5 separate regions of the Homo sapiens genome follow, and all the other regions are linked to region 1. The links come from fine-mapping of genetic effects on gene expression. A gene starts in region 1. Each other region holds a variant in brackets. All regions are shown on one strand. Distances are from middle to middle. Region 1 holds the start of KAZN (kazrin, periplakin interacting protein). Region 2 overlaps KAZN (kazrin, periplakin interacting protein). Region 3 overlaps KAZN (kazrin, periplakin interacting protein). Region 4 overlaps KAZN (kazrin, periplakin interacting protein). Region 5 overlaps KAZN (kazrin, periplakin interacting protein).

Region 1 (4,118 bases):
CTGTTTCTTCTGCTGAGTGCTATACCAGAGGTGTGAGTGCACGCACACGTGTGCGCACACACACACACACACACACACACACACGGCCCTCTAAATAGAGCTACTCTTAACTGTTTGCTCAGAAGCCCTAGTTCCAAAACATTCCCATCCTCTCTATTTGTGTATTTGCATATATGACTTTTTGATTGAGGTAAAATTTACATAACATGAAATTAAGCCCTTTAAAGTGAACAATTCAATGGCACTTAGTACATTCACCGTGTTGTGCCACCACCACCTCTGTCTAGTTCTAAAACATTTTCATCAGTCAGCACAAAGTAACACCCGGCACCTATTAAGCAGTTACTTCTCATTCTTCCCTCCCCACAGCCCCTGACAAACACCAATCTGCTTCCTGTTTCATGGATTTATTTATTCTGGATATTTCATATAAATTGAATCGTATAATATGTGACCTTCTATGTCGGGCTTCTTTCAACTAACATAATGTTTTGGAGCTTCATCCACGTAGTAGTAGCATGTATCAGTACTCTTCACGGCTGAGTAATATTCCATTGCATACTGCAATTTGTTCATCCAATCATCTGTTGATGGACATTTGGGTTATTTCTGCCTTCTGGCTACTAATGAACAGTGCTGCTATGAACATTCATGTACAAATTTTTGTTTGGATATTTGTTTTGGACATATACCTAGGAGTGGATTTGCTGGGTCGTATGGTAATCCTATGTTTAACTGTTCAAGGAACTGCTAATATGTTTTCCACAATGGCTGCACCACGGCATCCCCCTTTTCAAGACCCACACAGCTCTGTAGTTTTGATGCTCTCCCCATAACGTAACTGAAAGACTGCAAAGAACTGAATCCTGGTTTGCAGATACACTAAGCAGTTCTAAGTGCCTTGGTTGGTCCAGTTGGTAAGAACTTGTGTTAATGAGGTTAAGGTCAGGGTTCGATCCCCGAACTGACCCATTAGCTGAGCAGAGCGGACAGAGTGAAGAATTGTGTCTTCCTGCCACATGCTCCACCATCAAATCCTGCCCTCTTGCAAAAGCTTGTTAGTGGTCACAGGGGAATGGAGCAAGACTGTTTTTATGGTTCCACAGAAAAGGGGGGAGAAATCTATCATCCAAGGCCTCCTGAAGGCGCAGCAGGAGGAACTTGCAATCAGATGATTACTTTCTTCCAGTCCCGCTGTCACCTGGTTTCTGCGGGCCCCTTAAGTAAATTGCTTAACCCTATGCAGAGCCTCAGTTTCCTTATCCCTAAAATGGGAATAATAATCCTCACTCACAAGAGATAAGAATGCATATAAAAGCACTCTACACGCAGTTTTTGCTTGGTTCTTATGGGCTTCCTGTAAGAACCTGAAGGGTGGGCAGCCTCATTTTTCCTCGCAGCACCCCACTGGCTTCTGCAATCTGCTCTTTGCTGCTCTCCGGAGGTTGACTGAGCTGGAATGATGGCGCCCTGTTGACCAGAGGGTTGCTGGCTGTTTTAAATTGTCCTATTTGCATGGAATGAAGTTTGCTATGGTAACAAGGTCTGGTGGCTGGAATCCAGGGCCCCAGTGAAAAATGCAAAGCCTGTGGTCTGGGAGAGAAAGAGGAGCTGGAGAGGGCATATCAACGTCAGGTTACCTCAGTTCTTCTGTGAAGAGGGGATGGGTAAACTGAGGCAGCAGGGCTCAACTCTTCTGCTCCCAGTAGAAGAAAGGGAAGAAGCCCCATCGACGCCTTCCTTCTTATCTCTCAACCTCATCTCTGTCCCCGCCAATATTCAGCCCGGCTAAGAAGCTTAGGAGCTGGCTAAGGCTGCTCCTCCACCTGGATGCACACACAGGGCTAGGGCTGTGGAGAGGCGGGAGCACCAGCGGCCCACGCCGAGGAAGATAGGCGCTCCCTCCTGGGGTGGGCAGCGCAGGTCTGGCCTGCGGGTGGGGGGTGGAGAGTGAGAGGCACGCGGGGCACCAGCTCAGCTCCCCTCTGGGGATTTCGTACTCGCAGTTTAAGGAACCGGTGGAGCACGAACTCCACTCCTGAGCTGGCGCAAGCGTCTCCCTTCCATGGAGATCCACCCCGGCTCCCCTCTGAGGCCCCCTTTCCAAGCACCCTCTCTTCCGAGCACCCAGCACCTCCCCAACCTTAGCACGGCTCGGGGCACCAGTTCTCCAGGGCGGGGGCTGCCCCACCGCTCAAGGGAGGGGACAGAGGGCCGGCCTCGGTCCAGGCGACCCCTGCCCCTCGCCAGGGGCGCCACCTTGGCCCCCTCCCGACTGCCGTCCGCCGCCTCCGCCCCCCCGGGGGGTGTGTCTCCGAAGTACGGGGGCGCGGGAGGCCAAGGGTGCCCCCAGCCTCCGACCGAGACCCCCTCCCGAGCCGGCGGCGAATGGTAGGCTCCATTTAAAGAGTGCCTGGTGGCGCGCGGTGTCCTTCTTGGAGCAGCTCTCGGCGCCCGCCCGCCGGGGTCTCGGCGATCGCTGCTCCTCCTCCTCCTTCTCCTCCTCTTTTTTCTCCTCCGCCTCCTCCCCCCGCCGCCTCGCCACCGCCGCGGCTAGGGCTGGAGGCGCCGCTGTCATTCCTGTGCCGGAGGAACCGGCGCTGCCGGTGCCTGGGGGTCGGGGCGCGGGCGAAGCCGGGCCGCGGAGGACACAACAGGTAGAGCCGGGGGTGCCCGGCCGCGCGCCCCCCGCGCATCATGCAGCTCTTTGTCACCTCTCTCGCCCCCAGGCCAAAATCCTGAGCATGATGGAAGACAATAAGCAGCTCGCGCTCCGCATCGATGGGGCGGTCCAGTCGGCCAGCCAGGAGGTGACCAACCTGCGAGCCGAACTCACGGCCACCAACCGGAGACTGGCGGAACTGAGCGGCGGCGGCGGCCCCGGCCCGGGCCCGGGAGCCGCGGCCAGCGCCTCGGCGGCGGGGGACTCGGCGGCGACGAACATGGAGAACCCCCAGCTTGGAGCGCAAGGTAGGATCGCCCCGGCGCCCAGGGCGGAGGAAGGCGAGCAGAGCACGCCCGGCCTCGGAGGTGGCCGGGGACCCGGGGTCCCCCACACCCGGGGCGAAATCGCTTTGCATTCTGGCTTGTAACCCTTTCCGCCCGGCGGTGGCCACCGCTGCTCTCCGGCTGGGAGTTGCAGGCTGCTGTCATTCACGAAAACCCGAGCGCAGTGTGCACGGGGTCACACGGTCACACCGGCCCCGGCCAGCCTGAGCGAGGCGCAGCCGGCGGGTCCCTTCCGGCATCAGAAAGTGCCCTTTCCGTGGCACCAGCCCCCTAGCTCCGTGCAAACTTTTCATGCCGGGGCCTTTTCCCCACCCCCCGCAGGGGTGAATGGCACAGTTCCCCCCACTTCCTTAGGCTCCTTCCCAGAGAGAGCTCCGGGCTCTGCCGCCGTGGTTGGGATAGAGGATTGCACTGCTGTGCACTTTTCTCCGCGGATGCCAAATCCCTTGGCTCAGTTGCATCTGGACTTTATTTTCTTCTCATTTGAGGTCTCTCAGGCATTGGAATCTATAGATGCAACAGTAGATGCTCAGCTCAGCAGGGAGTTTAAATTTCCGCAAATATAAACACCGAGAGCACTTTCCAGGGGGATACTGTAGACCTCAAAGGTTGAGCGGTAGAGAAATGAAGGCTTAGGGTGGTGGGCTGCAGGGAGCCCGTTTGAAGGGACTCTGCGGTTTAGAGAAGAGGAAGAAAAAGACAGTTGGTTTGTGTTCACATTGACAGAGATTAAGCTCTGAAACCCCCTGCAAGACATAAAGGCGGATGGGGCATTCCCTAAAATGTACTGTTTGGTTTCTGTGACTTAGAAAGTAAAAGGGTAAGCAGGCTTTGGGGGATTTTTTTTTTCTTTTTGCCTAATTGCCCTTTAAGAAACAGTATCACTGGTTATTAATATCATTTGAATTGCAAATTAAACTGCTGAAATCCAGAACAGGACAGAAACAAATCTCCAGTCCATGAGGTCCACTTGTCTAAATATGTCACTTGAAGTGCAAGGTACCAATTGCTCAGTGGCTCAAAATGATTTTCTGGTTCTGTTGTCATTTCAAGAGCTTCTCTTGAGGGTTGAGAGAGTCTGTTTTCCTAAGAATCTGGTTCTCTCCATC
Region 2 (4,118 bases), 270 kb after region 1:
ATGAGCATCCGGACACCTAATCTGAGGCCCCAGGCATGGAATCTGTGCTGGCCTGAGCTGTGGGGAGACCCTGGTCTATGGACACCTCTTGAGATCAGTGGAGATACACAATAATGGAGAATGCTGTTATTGTCATGGCATAAATTTGGATTGGAGAAGACAGAAAAGAAGCAGGATGCTAAGTGAGGCTGGCCACGCCCCTGCCTCCCTGATGGACTGCTGACCTTGCAATGCCCTTCTCTTGAATCCCAAGTTCGGGCTCGTTTTTTCCAGGCCTCCTCTGCTACAATGCTTGGCCAAGGCCCAGCCAGGGCCCTCCCTGTGCAGGGGAGCAGCCACGTTCAGGGCCCTGTGATCAATGGAGCGTGGAGGCCTCTCGGAGTCCTTTGCTCCCCTCTCCCTCCTCTTTTGCCTTGAAGGTCTGTTGTTTTGTGAGATCTGCGAGAGTGGGGAGAGTGGGGAGATTTATTTTGCACTGAGGCTGTGAGTGGGCTGAGAGAGAAGCAGAGGACAAAAACTGCACTAGACTTAGACCAGGCACCAAAATAGAAAGCCCAAGACCATTGTATTCCCCCGGGACCTGACTCTGGCCATGGTGCTGATGATAGAGTTACCGTTGGGTTCAGGGATGGTGCATCCTCCAGCTGGGCTCCAGGTAAGACAGGCTTTTTGACTTCTCTGTGCCTGTTTCCAGCTCTGTGAAGTAGGAAAACTACTAGCTTCCATCTCGCAAGGACGCCGAGAGGATGAAATGACAGAGCACGTAGTTGTCCGTAGACTGATGTCAGGTGCTGCTGTTTGTGTTATTAATGACAACAGCAGTCATCCTATTCAGGTGCTTTTGCTAGGACTGTGACTTCTGTCTCTGCTTTACTCGGTGTCTTTGAAGACACCCCCCCCCCCACCCTGGGCATGGAGGCATTGGGGCAAAGGGCAGCAGGCAGGTCAGCTGGCATGGCCCCTCGTCTGGGGCTTGTCCCTGGCTATGTCCTCAGCTTTCCTGGGCTGAGCCAGTGATGTATATAAGGCTGTGGACTGCACTTGGATAGGTGGAGAGGAGACAGACATGACCTGGCTACAGGGAGGACAGCAGTGGGCAGGCACAGCCTCACATAAGCACAGCATTGCATAGGCAGGCATCGCATATGCAGGCATTGGATACACAGGCATCACAAACGTGGGCATCACACAGGCATGGCATCGCATAGCATGGCATCACATACGCACAGCATTGCATACACAGGCATCACATACGCACGGTATCACATACACAGGCATTGCATACACGGGCATCACATAGCACGGCATCACATACGCAGCCATCGCATAGGCGGGCATCGCATAGGCAGGCATCAAATAGCACGCATCACATACGCAGGCATCGCATACGCAGGCATTGCAAACACATGGCATCACATACGCACAGCCAGGGCTGCGTCTGAGGCCACTGGAGGGGAACTGTTCTTAGACCCAATGGCTGTCTTTACTACTAATTGCTATTGCATCTATTGGGCAATTAGAGGGTACCAGGCTGTGGGCTTTCTAACACTTTCCTGGGATGGGAGCCATTTTATAGATGGGGAAACTGAGGCTCAGAGTTGGAGCAACTCATCTAGGGCCACACGTTACAAGACCTGGGATTTGAAACCAAGATTAGTGACTCCAGAGGCTGAAATCTTAACCACTTCCCCGTGGGCCCTTCTTGAAGTGAATGTCTAACCATTACCACTTTTCCACTGGGTGAACTGGAGTCTTGTAGACCCAGAACATCTGGGCAGACTTTGAGTTTGGGGAGGGGAATCTAGTAGGCTCCTCTGCAGCTGTCTTCATCTCTGCATGTCCTTCCAGAAATGGGGCCAAGAGGAGCCAGGCATGGTGGCGTGTGCCTGTAGTCCCAGCTACTAGGGAGGCTGGGGTGGGGGGATCTCTTGAGCCCAGGAACTCAAGGCTGCAGTGAGCTATGATCATGCCACTGCACTCCAGCCTGCACAACAGAATGAGACCCCAACTCTAAAAAACTTAATAGCTAAGTAAAAATAATAATAAATAATCCGAAATGGGGCCAAGATAAGAGAACTGAATC[G/A]GGGTTGGCGGGGGGGTGCATCTGTTCTACTCGGTGATTTTTCCCTTGTTGATCTGTGTCCCCCACTCCAGCTTGGGGGCCCCGGTGGTATTGTGGGTACCCACAAAATGCTAGTCAGGATGCCAGATTCCCCTTCTCTAGTTCCTGCTAGCACCTTGGGATGTGTCCTAGTGAGAACCGCAGACTTGCCAAAGCCATGACAGCTGGATCCTATTCTAGCCGCAGGTTGGGATCGAAGTTTAGTATTCCAGCTTCCACCATCCCCTTCCTGCCTGTCTTGACCCTTCCAGTTTGCTCCTTTAAATCTCCACTTCCCTTTTGCACAGTCTCAAGCTCTTCCAGGTTCTGAGGATTTTTTCTCACTTCTCAGGGTGAGCTCGCGACCTTTCATTGCCTTCCCTGTGTGAGCACAATTCAGGGGTCAGACTCTGGACTCTTTATGGAGCCTCAACGCAGGGGCTGTGACTGTATATTCTGCACAGCGAGGCTCTAATTACAGGCTGCATGCTGGAGACTAGTCATTTTGTGAGTCATTAGGATGTGTGGCTGGGGCTTTATAATATCTTTTGATGAGTTCTGTAATTTTTATATCTTCACCTATGCTAGCATTTTCAGTGAAGCAGAACAGGACAGTAGGGCTGGCAGATGTCACAGCCCCTGGGCTCTTTCTGGATCGGAATTGAAAGGGTCTTCTCCTCTGCACTCTGAGGAGAGAAATATTGATTCTGATTGGGTTCGAGGGGTTGAAAGCTGGCATGTGCCTCGTCTCTTGCTAATCAATATTCCAAAGCAGTGGTTGTGGGTAATGTTTGAGTACTTGCTTCTGTTCTCCTTCGTGTTGGCAAATTACAAGCTTTCAGGTGAGACTCCCTTCATTTTGCAGTGGCTGCGAGGAGCAGGTTTAATTAGCGCACAGACCTGCTGGAAAAATCCAGTGTTATTAAAAGCCTTGTTCCATGTGGTGGCTGCTGGGTTGTACCGGTCTCCTGCCCTCAGCCCCTTCCTTCCTGAAGCCACCCAACACCCACCCCGGCATTACTTTGCCATTAATCCCAAGGTATCCGGGGAAAAATGACAGAGAGGTAAGAAAAATCACATGGAAGGTAGAATGTCCAGATTTTTCCCCAATGAGATGAAAAACTCAGGGTCTCATCTCTGTGGAAAATCCCAGTATCTGTCCAGGAGCACTGGGCCTGGCCTTGACCTTGGCTTTGACCTTCAGACGACTGCTGGGGAGATTCCTTGAACATGGAGTCTAGGGCCTGGATACTGGGAAAAATCAGACCCTTCTACTCAAAACCAAAAGACCACAGGCTTTGGAGTTAAGACAGGGTGAAGGGTGAGTCCCAGCTCTGCTCCTCACTTGCTGTGTGACTTTGAACAAATGGCTTAACTTCTCTGGCCCTGTTTCCTCAACTGTTTTTTGTTTTTTGTGTGTTTGTATTGAGACAGAGTTTTGCTCTGTCGCCCAGGCTGGAGTGCAATGGCACAATCTTGGCTCATTGCAACCTCCACCTCCTGGGTACGAGTGATTCTCCCACCTCAGCCTCCAAGTAGCTGGGATTACAGGCATGCACTACCACACTGGCTAATTTTTGTATTTTTAGTAGAGACGCGGTTTCTCCATGTTGGCCAGGCTACTCTCAAACTCCTGACCTCAAGTGATCTGCCCACCTTGGCTTCCCAAAGTGCTGGGATTACAGGTGTGAGCCCCCAGGCCCGGTTTTCCTCATCTGTTAAATGGGGTTCACGACCGTGACTCCCTCATGAGCTGCTGTGATGCTTCATGAGATGAGGAGCTTCACATCTGGCACAATTAATGGCCCATGGTCAGCTCTCAATCGGGGGCATTTGTTGTGAAGGTTGTGTGGCACTATGTGTCACTGTGGCCACACTGTTCTCATTATTACATATATGAATCTTACTCCACAACCAAGTGTGCAAGAAATCTCACCAGGCCCAACCCTACCAGAATGATAAGAAATTAAGACTCATCATATGAATGGCCGCCTCCACACCTGCCTGGGGTCACACA
Region 3 (4,118 bases), 290 kb after region 1:
AATGTCACAAGCCCACATCTGCCATTGATGGGAGAAAAGTATTATTGTCCCCCAGGAAGGAGCAGAAAATATCTCTGAGAAATAGCAATCTACCACAATGGGCTTGGAGTTTATAATTATTAACAAATAAGAGAACAAAAAGACCTAGGAATTATAAATATATACTAATATAGTCACCTAATGGAAAGTATAAAGCAGTAAAATGGATGCACTATAGCCATATAAAGCATGGGTGCATCTTGGAAATATAATATTGAGTGAAACTCCTTGTACCCAAATCCTTGTCTCAGGCTCTGCTTTGCAGGGGGAGCACAAACTGAGGCAGCTTCTGTGTCTGGTGCTTGTCCAGAGTGTACTTAGCACTCACTGTCTCCTAGGACAGAATTCCCCCTTGGGGTACAGCTCTAATTCTGGAAAAGTCTGCCCCTGCCTACCCTTCCTTCCTTAATTCCTGTCCAGCTTTCTCTTGGCAAACTACAGCCCACAGGCCAAATCCAGCCCACCAACCAAGAATGTTTGTACACTTTTAAATGGTTGAAAAAAATCAGAAGAATGTTTCACGATGTGAAATTTATACAAAATTCAAACTGCAGTGTCCATAAATAAAATGTTACTGGATCACAGCCTTGCCCATGTATTTATGAGCAGTTGGGACAGAGACCATTGAAAATATTTACTTCCTGGCCCTTTGCAGAAAAAGCCTGTCTTACATGACAAAATATGGCAACTAGCAGACTGTGTCGGGTAGTATCATCAGTGAAAAGAAGTACCTCGTACGCTCGAGCCAAACATCAGCCTCTTGAAGAGTTACAATGGGCTTTTTATGTCGTCAACCTGCAGAACACAGGAAGAGTTAGGGAGAAGCCTAGACCCAGGTCAGAATGCAGTTGGAGATGATTCGGGAAGCTTACCACAGGGACCCTGAGGGGGCTTCCCAGAACTTGCTGAACAGTCGCCTTTCCCTTCCCTGCTCTGCGAGTTTGGGTTTTGGGTAAGCAAGTCAAGCCTGGTCAGCTGGAATGCTCTGGCTGGTCAAGGCAATTGAAATTTCTCTTTAATGGAAGATTGAACAAAAAGCTCTTTCTGGATTGCCCCTGGGGAGAGGTTTCTCAGCTGTGTGCAAAGCCCATTTTCCTGATGGGAAATCTCTCCACTGCCCGAGAATGGCACGCAGACCCAGAATCTCCCGGGCACCAGTCCCCACCAGTGGGACATCGTCCCGCTGCAAAAAGTATAGGACAAAGAAACTGAATCTGTCAAACCTGTGACATCCCCTAAAAGCTGAACATTTTTAAAATTCCTGATAGCAAATTTAAATCTTTTTTTTTTCCTTTCTGCCCGCCTTTTAAAAAGATAGAGAAGGTTATTTTTAAAGGCAGGCCATAGATCAGGATTCTGAATGACGGGCGTGAATCAGAGTCCTCTTGTGGGCTTTCTCAGTATACAGACTTCCGGGCCCCACGGCGGATCCACTGATGAATCTCAGAATGGGACCCAAAGATCTGTATTTTTTTTTAATCTAGAGCTGGGGTCTTGCCGTGTTGCCCAGGCAGGTCTCAAACTCCTACGCTCAAGTAATCCTCCCACCTTAGCCTCCCAAAGTGCTGGGATTACAGGTATGAGCCACTGTGCCCAGCCAGGAATCTGGACTTTTTTTTTTTTTTTTTTTTTTTGAAGCAGTCTCGCTCTGTCGCCCAGGCTGGAGTGCAGTAGCCGGATCTCAGCTCACTGCAAGCTCTGCCTCCCGGGTTCACGCCATTCTCCTGCCTCAGCCTCCAGAGTAGCTGGGACTACAGGCACCCGTCACCACGCCCGGCTAACTTTTTTGTATTTTTAGTAGAGATGGAGTTTCACCGTGTTAGCCAGGATGGTCTCGATCTCCTGACCTCGTGATCCACCCGCCTCGGCCTCCCAAAGTGCTGGGATTACAGGTGTGAGCCACCGCGCCTGGCAGGAATCTGTATTTCTAAAAATTTATTGTTTCCATAGGTTTTTGGGGAACGGG[C/T]GGTGTCTGGTTACATGAGTACGTTCTTTAGTGGTGATTTGTGAGATTTTGGTGCACCCATCACCATAGCAGTATACGCTGAACCCAATTTGTAGTCTTTTATCCCTCACCCCCTTCCCACCCTTTACCCTGAGTCCCCAGAGTCCATTGTATCATTCTTATGCCTTTGCGTCCTCATAGCTTAGCTCCCACTTATGAGTGAGAACATACAATGTTTGGGTTTCCATTCCTGAGTTACTTCACTTAGAATAATAGTCTCCAATCCCATCCAGGTTGCTGCGAATGCCATTAACTTTCCTTTTTATGGCTGAGTAGTAAGGAATCTGTATTTTAACAAGCTTCCCAGCACTTCCCATGTGTGTGCTGGGCTAAAGCAGTTAAAGACCACTGCTTTAACACTGTATTTATTTACATGGGAAAATGTCCATGGAATACCGTTGAATTGTTTTTTCTAAAAGCAAGTTAGCCTGTGTCATGCTGATTTCTGGAAAATTCTATGTCATTATGTTTCTTTAGGAGAGAAGAAAAGCCAAAAAAGTATTAACGGGGGTAGTGGGATTTTACAGGTGATTTATACTTTTTTTTTCTTTGTACTTTCTCCAACTTGTTTGAATTTTATGCAATGAATAGCTATTTCTTCTAAAATGAAAAAGAAATCTCTGAAGTTATTTCCATGGTTGGGGGTGGGATGGGGCAGTAAGACGTGTCCATGAGCCTCCGTTAGTCGGCTCTGATTATGTGAGGCTTCTTGGTGTCAGGGAGTCTTACATCTGGCCCTGCCTGTTGCTATGACCCAGAAGCTACTGGAAGGTGTCAGGAAAGTTCAACATGCCCCCGTCCCTACCTCCTGCCTCTGGCCTCTGGTGTGGTGCAGACCCCTGAAGTAAATGCCTCCTCAAGGCAGCAGGCAGAGCCCAGATGGGATGGTGACCCTGCCGTCATCTGTGCTCCCATTCCTGGCCCAAATGGAGTCTCAAGGTCTCTAGGGAGCCCAGCCCAGCACCTGCCACAAACACTAAATTCTCTCAGAACTCCAGGAAGAAAACACTCCTGGCAGAAGAGAGTTCAGTCCCTGCCCCGGGGCTCGCCTCCAGCCATCTCTGATGACCCAGGTCCCAAGATGCCCTCCTGTGCCTTCATTATGGGAAGAGAGGCATCTGTCTTTCAGAGGCATCTCTCTCTCTTTTTCCCTCTCTCTCTCCTTTTTCCCCCTCCCCCCTGCTGTCTCTCTTTCTCTCTGTATCCTACAATCCCTGGATCATCTGAAGGCCTGTAATCTCAGGCTTGTTTCCCCCCAGACACCACCATGGAGCTTCTCCCTCCCCTGACAGCCCATGGGAGCCCACCCCACAGGTTTTTCTACAAGGTCTGCAAAGGACAGAGTGGAAGGGAAAGTGCTAGAAGGTTGCAGAGACACCCCAGAAGGTGTCTCCAGAGCAAGCTTTCGAATGACCTCTGTCTGCATCACTGCCCACCACCCCTGCCCATGGCTCAGGGTTCATAGGGGTGTGTGTTCATGTCCTCAGACTTGGGCAGGTGAGCCCAGGACACTTGTGCCACGGGGCTGTGGGGGCCTCCTGCAGGCTCCGGTGGCCTGGGCCCAGGCAAACCAGCCCACTCATCTTGTATCTCCAATACCTACACACACACACACAAAAGCTTCCAGAAGAAAGGAAAAAAGGAATGGACAGAGGAAGGACCAGTCTCCTAAGATTATTCCTCATTCATGCAGTCCTCCACAAATATTTACAAGCACCTACTACGTAGCAGGCACAATTCTAGGTGCTAGGATAGAGTGAACAGAATTAGACTGATTAGACTGGTCCCTACTGTCATAAGGCTGATGATCTACAGGAGGAAGTCAAATAATCATTTTTAAAAGGAAAATAGAGGCCAGTGTGGTGGCTCATGCCTGTAATCCCAGCACTTTGGGAGGCCGAGGCAGGTGGATCATGAGGTCAGGAGTTCGAGACCAACCAGACCAACATGGTGAAACCCTGTCTCTACTAAAAATGCGAAATGTAGCTGGGCGTGGTGGCTCGTGCCTGTAATCCCAGCCACTTGGGAGGCTGAGGCAGAAGAATCTCTGGAGCCCAGGAGGCAGAGGTTTCAG
Region 4 (4,118 bases), 280 kb after region 1:
GTGGAAGGACAAATGGATGGATGTACAGACGGATACATAGATGAATAGATGGGTGGATGGATGGGTGAATGGATATATGGATAAATGGATGGTTGGGTGGATGGATGGATGGATGGATAGATGGATGGATGGATGGATGGATGGATGGAAAGATGAGTAGAAGAACATATAGAAGGATACATGGATGGATGGATGGATGGATGGGTGGGTGGATAGATAGATGAATCGGTGGGTGGATGGATGGATGGGTGGATGGATGGATGGATGGAAGGATGGATGGATGGACAGATAGATGAATGGATGGGTGGATGGATGGATGGATGGAAGGATGGATGGATGGACAGATAGATGAATGGATGGGTGGATGGATTCATCCATTCATTCCTTCTGTCACCTGCTATGCACTAGGCATTATTCAAGTAGTTAGGGATAGAATAATAACACAGACAAAGCTCCTGCTTTCAGAAAGACTGTATTCTAAAGGGGAGAGTCAGATGTTCAAGAAGAAAACAAATAGCATAAAGAATTTCTAGTAGCAGTAAGCACTATGAAGGAAAATAAAGTGGGGAAGAGGGATGCAGAATAATGGGGCTGCTGTTTCACATAGGGTGGTCTCTTTGGTAAAGCAGCATTTGAGAAAGCCTTGAGGGAAGGGAGGAAGTGAGCTATGCAGAGATCTGAGGGAAAAGCAGAGAGAACAGAAGAAGGCTAGCATGGCTAAACCAGAGTGTGGGAGGAGAGGAAATGTAAAAGGAGAGGAGGTCAGAGGGAGCCAGGGGCCTTTCAGGCTTTTGGAAGACTTTGCTTTCCTCTCAGTGAAATGAGAAGCCAGTGGTGGGCTTTGAGAAGAGGAGGGATTGGATCTGACATATATTTATGTTGTGTTGAAAATAGACTCTAGGGAGGAAAGGCAGGTGCCGGAGACAAATAAGGAAGCTACTGCAATCATCTAGGCATGAGTTTGTGGTGGCTGGGACCAGGGAGAGAGCAGTGCAAAGTGGGGCAAAGTGGCGAGATTCAGTATCTAGTTCAAAGGTAGAGCCAGCAGAACTGACGTGGTGGATGTGGTGGGTAGGAGAAAAAGGAGAAGTCCAGAATGATTCCAGAGATGCACCCTTGAGTAACTGGAAGGAAAGCACTTGTCATTTCTTGAAATAGAGAAGACAGGGGCAGGAGCGAGTTTAGAGGGGGTGGGCCAGGAGGAAATCAGGAGCTCAGTTTGGAGTATGCTAGGTTAGAGATGTCTATTAATCATCTGAGAGTTGACTGTCCAAATTTCAAGGGAGAGGACAGGGCTGGTCATATCCATTTGGGAATCATCAGCATATACAGATGATATTTAAAGCCACGATACCAGACAAGTGAGTACAGATAGAGAATCCAAGGATTGAGCTCTGGAGTCCTCCAACATTTGGAGGTCGGAAGGGGGAAGAGGATCCAACAAAGGCTACTGAAAAGGAACAGCTGGTGAGGTAGGAAGAAACCAGTAGAGAAGTGACATGTGTCCGGAAGAGAGTGTTCAACTGTTAGATGCTGCTGACAGATTAAGTAAGAGGGGCTGGAAAGGTGACCACTGGATTTAATAATGTCATTGGTGACCTTGAGTTGTTTCAGAGGAATGGTGGCATGAATCGCTAGCTAGCTGGCTGA[CTGGA/C]TGGATGGATGGATGGATGGATGGATGGATGGATGGATGGATGGATGGACAGATGGATGGAAGGCTAACTTAACTACTGCAGCTAACTTAACTACTGCAGGTAACTGCACCATCTTGTCACCTGTGACAGCAATTAAGCAACTGTTGCCTGACACTCCGTGTGCCAGAACCAAAAGCTGTCAAAACCAATCTCCTTCTCCATTCACCCAACTTTTTGGATCCAGCCCAGAAATCCTGGTGTGACCTGTGTTTGCTATAAGATGAGAATCTTGACATCTTCTGGTTTGATTATCCTTCTCTGGATTACCCATAATGCTCTTGGTCGAATGTTTCCCCTTTTAAGGTTTGAGAAGGGAAAGGAAAGGAAGAAAATGAGAGGAAAAAAAACTAACTCTGGGATCCTAGACTTACTTGGTTTTGTATTTCCATTTGCCAAACTGATGCTTTGCCAAATCTCCCTTCCTTTCTGGAAGAGCAGATTTGCGCAGCCACCTACCTCTGCAAGTGGGGGTCCCTGGAGATTCCTCCATGTTAAAGCCAAATGAGGAAAGGTCTCAGATATATCTGTAAATTTGTGGCCAGGTGCGGTGGCTCACACCTGTAATCCCAGCACTTTGGGAGGCTGAGGCAAGCAGATCACCTGAGATTGGGAGTTCAAGACCAGCCTGACCAACATGGAGAAACCCCGTCTCTACTAAAAATACAAAATTATCCCGGCATGATGGTGCATGCCTGTAATCCCGGCTACTCAGGAGGCTGAGGCAGGAGAATCACTTGAACCCGGGAGGCAGAGGTTGCAGTGGGCCGAGATCATGCCATTGCACTCCATCCTGGGCAACAAGAGTGAAACTCTGTCTCAAAAAAAAAAAAAAAAAAAAAAAATTGTAAGACATTTTATGTAAATGTTATTTATCTTTTTATGGGTTTATTTGGTTGTTGTTATCATTTATTGGGTGAGCATGGAAGCTGAACTCTTGTCTTCCCTGCCTTGCATTGTCCTTAATTTATTAAAAAAAAAAAAAAAGAAAAAAGAAAAAAAAACTATTTTCAATGAAGCCATTTCTTCCTTCTCCTAATAGTGAAAATCACTGGATTCTTAGGAGGCATGAGGCACAGACCAGGCTTCCTACGCAGGATGTGCTGGGGTCTGCTCCAGGCTCCTGAGAGCCAATAGTTACATTTTCAGGAATGTTATAAGCCTCATACTGGTGGCTTAAAATTGATGATGAGAGTACGTACACCATGGAAACTGGCAATGACTACAAATCAGGGCTCCTTCGCCCAACCCTCCACAGTTGATTGTTAAACACTTGCCAGTACACCACTGCCTGTTGCCTTCACTATCAAGAAAGAGGTTTTCTGAGATCAATCTGAAGTGTGACCTCGGGAATTTCCTGCTTTCCTGGAAGGGGGTAGATTTCAGCCCAGGCATGACTGCCACATCAACAGAGATGCTCGGGAAGATGTGTTGCCCTGCAAACTTTCACAGTTGACACCCCCTGCTTCAAGCTCTGTGTGATGACAGTGAAGTGAGAGTGAGCCGCTCCTCTGAATGGAGAGATTAAAAGCAGTTGTTTGACTGAGGCAAGGAGGAAGAAGAAAGCCCAGACAAGCCAAGTGGGACTGTGATCTTAACAGATGTTAGGATCTTACCTCATTAGGGCACCTCAGAGGCTTGCCGCGGAGGTGAGAAACAATAGATGAGGTGATGGCTTTATGGAATTGTCAGTGTTATCAGTTCCCTGTCCTCAATCTGATCTGCACAATCACAGCCTCTGTTGTCACCTGTCCAATTTCCAATCTTGTGGTAGCTGCGTTTATTACATGCGCAAATGCAGCCAGCAGCCAGAATGACATTAGCGATAGTAGCTGCTGTGGGCTCATTATTATGCAAGCCAGGAAAGGAACTCTAGGCAGGTGATTAAACATGCCTTTGGCAACAGAGCAAAGAACAGATGCTTGGGAGGACACACCTTGAAATTGCAGGTAGGAACCTGGGTTTAGGACCATCACTCCTGTGCAGGTCTTTGCAGGGGAAGCAGACACAGCGTTGTGTAGTAGTTAAGTGGAGGGAGTGGGGTCTGGAGCTGGACTGCCTGGATTCAAGTCTCACTCTGCCCCTTACCAGCTCTGTGACCTTGAGTATGCTTCCCACCTTCTCTGTTTACATTAGTCTGCCCATCTCTAAAATAGGATAATGATGCTAATGATAGTACCAAAAATTGGTATGCTTTTGAGGATCCATGAGTAATCTACGTAAAACACTTAAAGTGATGCCTGTCACACAGAGCTAATAAATGTTAGCTGTTATTATTCTCCCTCCAGACCTTTTTGTAGATAGGCATGTCTAGATTTGGGGAAGTCTTGTCTTACCACTTAGAATACTGCAAAGTCATCTACTTTGACATGAACTAAAGAAAGTAAGAAAGCCTTTGGGCAAGTTGAAACCAACTTGTATTAGTCA
Region 5 (4,118 bases), 280 kb after region 1:
GCAAGATAACTCTTTGCCGGTGAATAGCCTCCAGTTAACATGGGGAAAACAATGAGGTAAGAAAACGAATGACAGTCCAGCATGCCTTGTGCTCCTGAGGCCTCTGTGAAGTGCTGTGGGCACAGGATCCATTCTTGGAGCATGCGGTAACTGAGCTCACAGCCAAATTGCTCTTTCCCAATATCCAGCAAAGCTGTGTTCCTGGAGTTACTCATGGCCAGTGCTCCACAGATTGTGCTCAGTCAGGTTAGGCTGAACACCCCTGAAAGTAAATTCTCGCATGATAAGCAGGGTGTTTCCAGTTGGACCAGAAAATCCAGCAGGGTGACAGGTCAGATAATGTCCCAGCAAACCACTTCCCAACCCTTGTCAAAACTGGTAGGTGCAGAAACAGGCAGTAACAAATGCCATTGGCATGTGAAATGCCAGCCTGGTGGGGTGAGGAAGAGAAGTGGAAATCATTTGAGGCTACTAAGGCACAAGAAGGACTAGAGGGCAGGAAATAAACTTTCTGTGACCCGTACCATTGGAACTGTCTGCCATCTTGCCGAATCTTCCATTTGTTCATGTATCTCTTCATCCGCAAGTGTTTATAGAATACTGATTATGTGCTAGGCACTGTCCTCAGCCCTGGGAATACAGTGGTGAGCCAAGCAGAGCTGGTCCCTGCCTCTAGGAACTTACAGTCTCATGTCTGAGATTATTTCAGGGCACCACATGGTGGGTTCAGGTACAGGTTCTGGTGTCAAATCACCTGGAATCAAGTTTCTGCTCGACCACTTCCCAGCCAGAAGACCTCATATGAACCATTTTGAATCGATTTGCTCCCTCTGAACTTGTTTCTGCATCCTTATACTGGGGATAAGATTACTATTTTCTGTGTATGGTTGTTTAAATGAGATTTGGATTCACAAATGTAGGTGCTGCTGGCTATGGTGGTGGCAGCTTTCTCTTCTCTTCTGAACTCACTGTAAGCTCCTCCGGGGAAAGGCCTGTTCTCTACTCCTCCTGTGTGTCTCTCAGGTCCACTCTAAGCTGCCTCTGAAGCTGGTACTCTGTAAATACCTGTTGAGTCCTTAGGGCTACTGAATTCTGATTCAGTAGCTCTGGCGTGGGACCTGGGATTCTGCCTTGCTAGCGAGTCCCAGGTAAGACCCATGCTGCTGGTCTGGGGATCACACTGTGAGTAGCCAGAGACTGGCTCATCCTCTCGCCTTGCCCTACAGTTTTTCATAACTGAACAGGAAGTGTTGTTATCTCATGCAAATTCAGGGTTGTTAGAGCGTGAGCTCAGCATGCACTCAGCTAAACTTCAGAGATTCCAAACAAACTTTTTTCCCTCCTAGAAGAAGCTGAAGTTTTGCTAGATATGCTTTAGCCAGGACTATTTTAAATGACTCAGCGGCAGTAACATTGAAGCTTCAGCCCTAAAGACTCTTCCATGTGTTAGCTTCTCACCTGGGGCAAGTTGTTTAATCTCTCTTGGCCTCGGTTTCCTTGTCTGTAGTAGGGGGACTGGTCCATTTGGGGGCTGTGAAATGATGCGTGGAAATCACCCTGCTCGAGGTCAGGCATATGGTTGGTTTTGATAAAGGAGGGCTTCTGTTATAGACCTGGTATTTCCCATCAGTCCAGATCTTCAGATGCTGGAGTGAAAGAATCAGTGCTAAGGGAAGTGCTGGCTCTGAGGAACCAAGGGAAGGTTAAAGCATCACTTACAGCTCCTCCCTTCTTCTCCCTGCACGTGGAGGGCTAGACGGAATGCTTGCAAAACTAAAAGCAATTATAGCACAGTTTTAAAAGTTCATTGGCATTTATGGAGCATCTAGAAACTTCCAGATGCTGTTCTAAGACCTTTCCATGGATTATTTCATTTAAGTCTCATAATAACCCCTGTAAAGTAGGGACTGACATCATCCTCCTTAGACAGATGAGGACACCAAGGTGTGGAAAG[G/C]TGAAGAGATTTGTCAAAGTTCATTTGAGGAATAAATAGGGAGCTAGAAGTCAAATTCAGACATCTCTCTCCAGAGCTGCTCCTTAACCACTCATGGGTAACTCAAAAAGTGGTTCTTGGCCGGGCACGGTGGCTCATACCTGTAATCCCAGCACTTTGGGAGGCTGAGGTGGGTGGATCACCTGAGGTCGGGAGTTCGAGACCAGCCTGACCAACATGGAGAAACCCCATCTCTACTAAAAATACAAAATTAGCTGGGCGTGATGGCACATGCCTGTAATCCCAGTTACTCAGGAGGCTGAGGCAGGAGAATCACTTGAACCCAGGAGGCGGAGGTTGCGGTGAGCCAAGATCACTCCATTGCCCTCCAGCCTGGGCAAGAAAAGCGAAACTCCATCTCAAAAGAAAGAAAGAAAGAAAGAAAGAGAGAGAGAGAGAGAGAGAGAGAAAGAAAGAAAGAAAAGAAAGAAAGAAAGAAAGAAAGAAAGAAAGAAAGAAAGAAAGAAAGAAAGAAAGAAAGAAAGAAAGAAAAGCGGTTCTTGAGCTCTTCTGTTGCAGGGTGCAGGCTTTCTTAGGACTGGATGGAAGTGGTGGCCTCTGTCCCACCTTTTTCAAAGGTGAGACCCTGGGTCACAGCCAAAGGGAGCATTATCTTCACACGCTCCTCCCATCCTCCATCATCCCTCACCTCCCGCCTACCCAATCAAATCAAGCAGAACTTATTAGAATAATGTACCTGCACACAATATTGGATCTAATTTCAAGAGATTCAAGGGCTCTCCCTCCCTATCAAAGCCAGCCCATCCCCATCACATGGACACAGGCAAGACCTTCCAGGCAAGAATCAGACAGGGGGCCTACCTTTGCCTTAACCCTGAACTATAATCTGAAACTTGCATGCCACTTATTTGAATGTTACCTACTTGGGAATCTCTTGTTTTCTTTAAATCATCAAACACCCCTTACGGTTTGGGATAGGAAGCTCTATTGTATCCTTTAGGTCTCCCAGCCTCAGTCTGTTTTACAGAAGAGAGAGGCAGGCAAGAAAGAATAGGGTACAGGAATGGGGTCCTTATATCTGTATGTGTCTTCTTAGGTGCCCACAAAATCCCAGTAAGGGAGACAATATTTTCCCCATTTCACAGATGAAGAAACTGAGGCTGAGAGAAACTACATCACTCATCTAGGGTCTCACAGCCTATAAATAAGAAGTTCAGGCCGGGCGCGGGGGCTCACACCTGTAATCCCAGCACTTTGGGAGGCCGAGGCGGGTGGGTCACGAGGCCGGGTGATCGAGACCATCCTGGCCAACATGGTGGAACCCCGTCTCTACTAAAAATACAAAAATTAGCTGGGTGTGGTGGCGGGCACCTGTAGTCCCAGCTACTCGGGAGGCTGAGGCAGGAGAATCGCTTGAACCCGGGAGGCAGAGGTTGCAGTGAACCCAGATCACACCACTGCACTCCAGCCTGGCAACAGAGCGAGACTCCATCTCAAGAAAAAAGAAGTTCAAAGGACATTGACACCAAAAACATCATTTTCTACCGTGCCACTGAATTAAAGAATAAAATCAGTGTTTAAGACTATGCATATAACAGAAGCATAGGTTGTGTGGCTTTGGTGTGAATATATGTACTCTTAAGTTCTCCATATTAAGGACGTTCATTGCTAGAGTCTTAGAAGTCCAGGGCTGGGTGCATTTTCGAAGGTCGTTTAGAGCAGAGCTTCTCAAACTTCATGTGCATGGAAATCACATGAGGAGCTTGTTAATTTTAATGCAAATCAATTCTGATTCAGTAGCTCTGACGTGGGATCTGGGATTCTGCCTTGCTAGCAAGTCCCAGGTAAGACCCATGCTGCTGGTCTGGGGATCACACTGTGAATAGCCAGAGGCTGGCCCATCCTCTCGCCTTCCCCCACACAGTTTTTCATAACTGAGCAGGAAGTGTTGTTATCTCAGAGCCATCAAAGAAGAAATACATTTCTCAGCGACAGCGATGGCGGAGGAAGAGGCCTGCCAACAGGCGGGGAGCAGAGGGGACCTTAGACCCTGGCAGAGATCGAGCATCACGGAACACGTATCGTAATGCTGTGCTCACCGAGGGAGTCCACCAGGGAAAGGAGGACACTATTGTTCACGGGAAAATGCCTGGGAGGGAGCTAT

What was found. PIP is the estimated chance that this variant, and not a neighbour inherited with it, causes the effect.
Region 2: its variant is fine-mapped to the expression of KAZN in whole blood (TOPMed, PIP above 0.99).
Region 3: its variant is fine-mapped to the expression of KAZN in whole blood (TOPMed, PIP above 0.99).
Region 4: its variant is fine-mapped to the expression of KAZN in whole blood (INTERVAL, PIP above 0.99).
Region 5: its variant is fine-mapped to the expression of KAZN in whole blood (INTERVAL, PIP above 0.99).

What each region holds. Positions count from the first base shown.
Region 1 is chr1:14,596,254-14,600,371 of GRCh38, forward strand. It overlaps KAZN (kazrin, periplakin interacting protein), which reads left to right and starts at 2,432. Exons shown (of 15, transcript NM_201628.3): 1 at 2,432-2,970. The coding sequence starts at 2,745. RefSeq lists a silencer at 3,099-3,258.
Region 2 is chr1:14,866,833-14,870,950 of GRCh38, forward strand. The region is part of intron 1 of KAZN (kazrin, periplakin interacting protein); the gene reads left to right. Among named protein-coding and RNA genes, the nearest start is that of KAZN, 270 kb to the left of the region's middle. RefSeq lists an enhancer at 1,273-1,773. The variant G/A (reference allele first, on the strand shown) is at 2,084.
Region 3 is chr1:14,889,191-14,893,308 of GRCh38, forward strand. The region is part of intron 1 of KAZN (kazrin, periplakin interacting protein); the gene reads left to right. It overlaps LOC107985469 (a long non-coding RNA gene), which reads right to left. Exons shown (of 3, transcript XR_001737616.2): 2 at 771-834. Among named protein-coding and RNA genes, the nearest start is that of TMEM51-AS1, 260 kb to the right of the region's middle. The variant C/T (reference allele first, on the strand shown) is at 2,006.
Region 4 is chr1:14,872,820-14,876,937 of GRCh38, forward strand. The region is part of intron 1 of KAZN (kazrin, periplakin interacting protein); the gene reads left to right. Among named protein-coding and RNA genes, the nearest start is that of KAZN, 280 kb to the left of the region's middle. The variant CTGGA/C (reference allele first, on the strand shown) is at 1,651.
Region 5 is chr1:14,880,942-14,885,059 of GRCh38, forward strand. All of the region lies in intron 1 of KAZN (kazrin, periplakin interacting protein), which reads left to right. Among named protein-coding and RNA genes, the nearest start is that of TMEM51-AS1, 270 kb to the right of the region's middle. RefSeq lists enhancers at 937-986, 997-1,056. The variant G/C (reference allele first, on the strand shown) is at 1,955.